2 linked regions of the Homo sapiens genome follow. The protein of the gene in region 2 interacts with the protein of the main gene of each other region in a pairwise test. Each region holds a gene or a part of one and is shown on either strand. Other genes may lie near its edges. The genes, in order: TAB1 and TRPC4AP.

The links.
Region 1: the proteins of TRPC4AP (region 2) and TAB1 interact in a two-hybrid assay, tested with the Homo sapiens proteins (one large-scale study listed by BioGRID and IntAct).

The regions. Positions count from the first base shown.
Region 1 is NC_000022.11:39,416,780-39,420,589, forward strand, and holds part of TAB1 (TGF-beta-activated kinase 1 and MAP3K7-binding protein 1), read left to right. Parts: intron 1-11; coding exon 12-98; intron 99-931; coding exon 932-1,070; intron 1,071-1,952; coding exon 1,953-2,066; intron 2,067-2,739; coding exon 2,740-2,851; intron 2,852-3,810. UniProt on the Homo sapiens protein: Key adapter protein that plays an essential role in JNK and NF-kappa-B activation and proinflammatory cytokines production in response to stimulation with TLRs and cytokines.
Region 2 is NC_000020.11:35,009,161-35,012,970, forward strand, and holds part of TRPC4AP (short transient receptor potential channel 4-associated protein), read right to left. Parts: intron 1,129-3,810; coding exon 1,027-1,128; intron 19-1,026; coding exon of another isoform or gene 6-18; exon of another isoform or gene 1-5. UniProt on the Homo sapiens protein: Substrate-recognition component of a DCX (DDB1-CUL4-X-box) E3 ubiquitin-protein ligase complex required for cell cycle control.

The sequences.
Region 1 (3,810 bases), on a different chromosome or scaffold from region 2:
TGTCCCCCTAGGCCTTCGATGTGGTGGAGAGGAGCTTCCTGGAGTCCATTGACGACGCCTTGGCTGAGAAGGCAAGCCTCCAGTCGCAATTGCCAGAGGTAATTTCCCCAGCCGACACCCAGGGGAGTCAAGTCCAGGCCCAGCTTTGCAAGGAGCATGGACTCATCTACTTTCTTGACATTACTGGGCCAGAGCAACAGGCGTTAGGGAGCAGTTCCTGATGGGTGACACTGGTGTGTGGCCACAGGTGAGGGACCTCGCTGCTCTGCTGTGGGCAGCTGCATGCTAAAGCTCAGCAGTGTCTGGGCAGTGGTGGACATGAGGAAGGGCTTTTCCCAGTCCTTCGTCCTGAATGGGTCCCCGCCCTTGTCAACCACCTGCTCACATCGCCTACTGCCACCTGCAGCGCTTACCTCTGTGCTGTGAGTTCGGTCATCTCCAGCTTTCTGGAAGAACCTTAGCCTGGAGCTGTAGCGAAGGCTTCATCTTGGCTGTGCCATGGACCATCTGTCTGTCTGTCCCCCGGGCCCTCGGATCTTTGCTCTTAAGAGCAAAGGGAGGCCGGGCATGGTGGCTCACGCCTGTAATCCCAGCACCTTGGGAGGCCGAGGCGGGCGGATCACAAGGTCAGGAGATCAAGACCATCCTGGCTAACATGGTGAAACCCCGTCTCTACTAAAAATACAAAAAATTAGCTGGGCGTGGTGGTGGGCGCCTTGTAGTCCCAGCTACTCTCGAGGCTGAAGCAGGAGAATGGTGTGAACCTGGGAGGCGGAGCTTGTAGTGAGCCGAGATCATGCCACTGCACTGTAGCCTGGGGGACACAGCGAGACTCCATCTCAAAAAAAAAAAAAAGAGTAAAGGGAGTGGAGAGGGCTAGGAAGATGGTCCAGAGTTCTGTCCTGCCCTGACCCTCTGTTGATGGTTGTAGGGAGTCCCTCAGCACCAGCTGCCTCCTCAGTATCAGAAGATCCTTGAGAGACTCAAGACGTTAGAGAGGGAAATTTCGGGAGGGGCCATGGCCGTTGTGGCGGTCCTTCTCAACAACAAGCTCTACGTCGCCAATGTCGGTGAGCCCCCTCCTGTCCCAGGGCAGGGAGGACTGGGGAGAGGTCAGCCACAGGGGTCGGTGCATTATTTGACAATCTGCTTTCCAGACACTTCACGCACTTTAAACCCAGGGTCTCCTGAGACCGTTGGGTATGTCCCTCTCCACAGTGACGCCTCAGTCCCAACTGGAAGGGAGAAAGGACGGGATGGGAGACAGGTGTCCTGGCCTTTAGTCCCTATTCTGCTTCTTAACTCATTCTGGACGAGTCGTATCCCATTCTGGGTGGCCTTGGGGGCCGCTGCTTCTGGAAGAGGTTACCTGGCCATGAATAACCAACCAGTATCCCCATGAACAGCTGCGAGATGGGGCTAGGTGACAGGGACATTGGGGTTTGTGAGAAGACCAGACAGGTGCAGGTTTCAGTAGAAAGGACTCTGTAGAGACCCTTCTGATGATGCTGCCTTTTTTTAATACTCCAGTGGAAAATTTTCCACAATATAGAACAATAGAGTGACTGATATTTAATGAACATTCATGCGCCCATCCCCAATCCCAGCAGTTATCAACTGTGGCCAGCCTTCTTTGTCCCCACGTTCTCTATTTTGAAGCAAATGCCAGACACTGTATCATGTTATCTGTAAATATTTCAGTCTGTATCTCTAGAGAAGAGGTCTGTTTTATTAAGATCATAATCCTATGATTACACTGAAAAAGTTAAACCCAATTCTTTCGTATCACCAGCTGTCCCTAACTGGTGACTCACCCCGTTGGTCTGAGCCTGTTTTGCCCATTTCAGGTATTTCCATGTGTGAAATGCCTGCCTTTTCCCTCTCTGCCTTCCCGGTATGCCCTATTTCTCTCTGTGTGTAGTCTTTGCTTAGCTGTTCACATTCTGCCACAGGTACAAACCGTGCACTTTTATGCAAATCGACAGTGGATGGGTTGCAGGTGACACAGCTGAACGTGGACCACACCACAGAGAACGAGGATGAGCTCTTCCGTCTTTCGCAGCTGGGTGAGTGGGGAGAGTGGGAGCGGAAGCTGATCCCCATGGGCTCACCCTTCGCCTGCCTTTGGTGGTGGGGTAGAGAGGCGTGTGGTAGAGGGGCTGTGATCTTGGGCTCCCCAGCCAGCCTGCCTGGGGTTCATTCCCAGCACTGCCGCTTACTGGTTGGTGATTGGAACTTAAGTTTTCTGTGCCTCAGATCCCCCGCTGTGTAATGAGGATAATAGTAACCTACCTCGGGATGCTAGGAGGATTCAGTTAGTGCATGTGAAATGCTTCCTGGAGTGCCTGGCACACAGAAGACACTTACTGTTATTGGTGGAGACTGAAAGAGGCCAAAGAAGTCCAGGGAGCCCAGCTGCTGCTGAGCTGCTCCTTCCCTTCCCAGTGAGCTCCAGGCAGATGTGGGGCACACGGGATGGGCAGGGAGACGGCAGGCAAGCTGCTCCGTGCCAGGTGGTGCCTGGAGGACGGGCTCTGAGTGAGGTGTGTCGTGATGGGCGTGGGGACTGAGGACACCAGGGACTTTGGGTCAGCTGCTCTCCCAGGTGCCCTGGTGTTGTCTTCATTTCCTATTCAGTGGGTCCTTATTGCCTTCTTCCCATGACTGTGTCTCTGTCCCCTTCTTTTTGTTCCTCTTTGTGAACAAGAAGCAGGATTGTTGCACTGTTTCCCTCCGTAGGCTTGGATGCTGGAAAGATCAAGCAGGTGGGGATCATCTGTGGGCAGGAGAGCACCCGGCGGATCGGGGATTACAAGGTTAAATATGGCTACACGGACATTGACCTTCTCAGGTAGGTGCCAGCCCAGCTGTCCCCTGTGCTTGAAAGAACAGAAGGTCCTAGGGAGGCCAAGATGGGAGGATTGATTGTGCTGGGAGGTCGAGGCTGCAGTGAGCCGTGATCATGCCACTGCACTCCAGCCTGGGCAACAGAGCAAGACCCTGTCTCAAAAAAAAAAAAAGGTCCAGAAGGCCTGGGGCAGACGCAGACTGTAGGCCCCAGTGACACATGTGCAGTCAAAGTAGTTCAGAGCCCAGGCAAACTCTTTCTTCCTCCCAGAGAGGTTGGTTTGGGGCAGGTTAGGCCCAGCAGGCCAGGAGTTGGGTACTGTAGAAACAAGGGGTGGAGTTGAGCTGGGCCAAAGCTGAGGGCAGCAACTAGTGCCACAAGGGAGGCAGGCGAAGCCAGAGTTGGCATGGGATGGACAGACCAGGCCTGTTGGTCGGTGCTGCCCATGGCTGCAGCAGAGGTGTGAGATGAATTGTGTATTTCCCTCTGAGGACACCTCCTCTGGACATCACCCCAGCGCTCATGGCAGCAGAATGGGCAGTCATCATCACACGGCCAAGCCCGTGCAGAGCTCTGGATGTACCTTCTTTTATGCATTCCCTACTCAGGCCCCCTGAGGCAGTCACTGCCATCACCCCAGAGGCATTTTCATAAGAGGAAACTGAGGCATGGAGACATCAGGCAGCCCACCCTGGTCATGGGGCTTGAACACAGGCAGCCTGAATTTGGAATATGTGTCCTTAACCGTCAGGTAACCTGTATGTGAAGTGTTGGTTGGGGAGATAGGCGCGTCCACTTGCCTGATGCCAATCATGGCATTTAATGTCATGGCCAAGGCTGTTCCCAAAGCCAGAGTTCCCATCAACAGAGGCCTCATGGCCTAGAAAGTGCATGTTAGAACTCCTTGCCCTCACGCGATCTAGGCAACTGAGTGTCGAATATTTGTCCCTAATTTGTGGGGT
Region 2 (3,810 bases):
AAGCCTCAGCTTCCCAGTCTATGAAGCAAAGGCAGGAGATGAGGAAATGACTCTGGCCCCGTCATGGGGGAAGGAAGACGGCCAGGCACGCAGGGGTCTGGGCCCTTCAAACAGAGCAGCTCTGCTGTGATCCACTGCAGACATCAGGGCAGGACTGGGTACAATTTTATTTGAATGAAGAGTTCTGCTACCTTAGAAAAAAAAGATTGGGAGGCCAGGAGAGGTGGTTCACACCTGTAATCCCTGGACTTTGGGAGGCTCACTTGAGGCCAGGAGTTCGAGACCAGCCTGGGCAACATAGTGAGACCCCATCTCTACAAAAAAAAAGTAAAAACACTAGCTGGGAATGGTGGCGCACACCTGTAGTCCCAGCTACTCGGGCGGCTGAGGCAGGAGAATCACTTGAGCTCAGAAGTTTGTGGCTGCAGTGAGCTATAACACCACTGCTCTGCAGCCTGAGAGAAAGAGCAAGACCTTGTGTCTAAAAAACAAAACAAAACAAACAAACAAAAAAGGTTGGGAAATCATGGCTCTTGTTGGATAAAGTCCACTGTATTCTGACGCCTGTGAGACTAGCCCCCCACTGCCTGGCTCCAGGTGAGGCAAACCTAACCCAGGTAATGCAACCTAACACTTGGCAGCAGGTAAGAGGCTTCTGTCTGTCCTGCTTGGCTGCAGATGCCACCAGGCAAGAAAGGAGCACATAAGCAAAGGGGCTGAATGCACGAGACAAGGCGGTGGGGCAGTGCGGAGCACACATGACTTCTGGCAGGTGACCTCTCTGAGGCTCACCTCATCTGTCAAGTGCAGGTACTGATGGGGCTCCCCTCCTAGGGCTGCTGTGAGGCTCCAATGAGAAAATGCAGGTGACATGAATACAATGCCTGGCACACAGGAGCCCTCAGGACACTGTAGCTGCATGTGAGAGAGGACACGCGTGCATACCTGGATGTGCTCACCGGTGAGCCCCCGGGGAACGTGGGCAGCCGGGATGGGCTGAGGGAAAAGCTGCACCCCTGCACTCACCTGTCGGTGTTGAGGACAGCTTCCACCTCAGGGATGTTGGCCTTGAGAGAGATGGCACTGAGTTCATTCAGCTCCTGGTTGTTGAGTAACAAGTACTTGTTCCTGAAACAAAATGGGTTGGAGGAGGTAAAGGACAGGAACTGGGGCTGCTGGGTCAGCACCAGGCTAGTGTAGGGAGTCTCCTGCCCACTTCCTGTGGACAGAATCTGAGAAGCCACCAGGCACTTTCCTCTAGCACCTCTCACTCCAGCCAGCACCTGCAGGAGGGAACTCTGGGCTCTCAGGCAGTGGAATCTCTCCCTGGCCCCACCCCCATCCCCGACCCCTGCCTGCCACATTCATCGACAAGGCCCCTTCCCTCAGCAGCTCTGGGCCTTTCTCTTTGCCTACATTTCCACTTGTTTTCTCAAAGGCACCAACACCTCAACAGGTCCAATCACACTCAAGCCTGGCCCTGCTGCAGCAGTCCCACCAAGCACCACGGTCACACATCACACAGAGGCCTGGTTAACTGTGACACTTCCCCCGACTTGCCATCCAGGCCTGTCACTGCTGGGTCCTGTGTTCCCAGGACACCAGCTCCCTTTACTAAAAGGTATCCCACAGGAACTGAGTCATCACACGGTGCCAAAAGTGATCTTCAGAATCAGGACTCTGATCCTGTCACTCCCGGTGAAAACACTTCCACAGCTTCCCACTGCATTTAGAACAGACATTTCCTGACTTAGGAGGAGGTTATGTCCTGATAAACCCATCGTATTTGAAAATGCCGTTAAGTTGAAAACATATTGAGGCCGGGCGCGGTGGTTCACGTCTGTAATCCCAGCACTTTGGAAGGTCCAGGCGGGTGGATCACGAGGTCAGGAGTTCGAGACCAGCCTGGCCAACGTGGCGAAACCCCATCTCTACTAAAAATATAAAAAATTAGCTGGGCGTGGTGGCACACGCCTATAATCCTAGCTACTCAGGAGGCTGAGGTAGAATTGCTTGAACCCAGAAGGTGGAGGTTGCAGTGAGCCAAGATCATGCCACTGCACTCCAGCCTGGGCAATAGAGCAAGATTCCGTCTTGAAAAAAAGAAAAAGAAAGAAAACACATTTAATATATCTAACCCACTGAACCTCCTAGCTTAGCCTAGCCTACCTGGAATGTGCTCAGAACACTGACTTCAGCCTACAGTTGGCCATAATCACTGGCAACACGGCAGGCACAGCACAGAGTACTGGTTGTCTACCTTGGTGATCGTGTAGCTGGTCACCATTTTTCTTGAAATACATTCTGAGCTGCAGCTGCAGCTCAGTGCCCAGCATTGCAAGAGTATTGAACTGTTTATCATGAGCCCAGGAAAAGATCAAAATTCAAAATTCTACTTCTGTACCATTGTGAAGTTGAAAAATTCTAAGTGGACCATCTGTATATAAAATCCAGGCCTGTGACTGTGACCCACAACACCCTGTGACTGTGACCCACAACGTCCTGTGCAGCCCAGCCCAGAGCCAAGCCCACATCACTCCCATCAGCTGGCCACAATGGTCTTCCCTCGTTCAGGGGCTTCTGGCTAGAACACACACCCTCTCACATGCCTGTTCACTCAATTCACTACAAGCTGACACTTCAGGTCTTGGCTGGCAAGCCACTTCTGCAGGGGAGAGTTCCTGAGTGTCCTCTGGCCAGTCCTGGACCCTGTCAAATGTCTCTCACAGACCCCGTTCCTCTCCTCCTGAATACCATCTCCACTTATCACTAATGCTCAACGGTGGAATCCTTGGATGAACAACTGTCTCTGTTTTCAGACTCTGCCCTTCATGAGAGCAGGGGCCATGGCTGTTTGCATTCATCCTGATATCCCACAGAGTACTCAGACTGAAGAGTCTGATGAAAGCCAGAGACTCACTTCCTCAGGGAAAACAGCACAGTTCCATAACATATGTGGTGCCATTTTTCAGAAGGTTAACATGCTTCCTGGAGCCCTTCTATGGCTTTCAGCCGGAAAACCTCTCACAGAGGATGGGTGCATATGATGGAGGTGCCCTGGGGCCACAGCTGTCTCCAGGCATGTTCTGTTAGCTCAAATGCAAGGTTTTTAAAATATTTAAACCAACATTTAAAATCAGGACCTTTCACATAAATCTTAATTTCTGCCTTTGCTTGGCAGAAAAAATCAGAAGTTATGCAACAGTGGGCCCAGTTTCCTGTGCACACGCAGCTGGCTGGAGCTGAGCTCACTGAAATTCTTGTTCACTAAGGTCCCCACATCACCTCCCCAATGCCAAGGTCAAGGGTCAGCTGCTAGTCACCCCCTTCCTGCACTGTTTTCCTTACAGCAGAGAGTAATTTTCCTTGTACATTCTCCATCGAAGGTTAAAAAATAAATGAGCGCAGAATGTCTTTCAAGAAAAATGGGAGCACACCTCCTTGTGGAGGGAAGAATCCTCCAGCTGCTCAGTAAGCAGTCGGCTTTGCCTGTCTGAAGTTCCTGCCGGCCCCTGGGAATAGCCACGCTGTCCACTCTTGCTTTAGAGGGGCAGTAGGTTGAGAAATCCATTGATTCCAAAGGTAGTAAGGGGCCAACGACTTCCATACTCAGTTCCTGGGGTGGCTATGAGGGTTAGAAGAAAGCTTGGGGCAGTGCCTGCCATAAGGAAGTCTGGAAAGACGGGAGGTCCGACTGCAGTGTCACACCTGCTAACACTGAGGGGACAGTGGGCTTCCACCAGCTCCAGGGCCTCCTCTCGAGCTGAGGTCAGGGACCAGACAAGGAGATCGAGGCCTTCCGAAGACAGC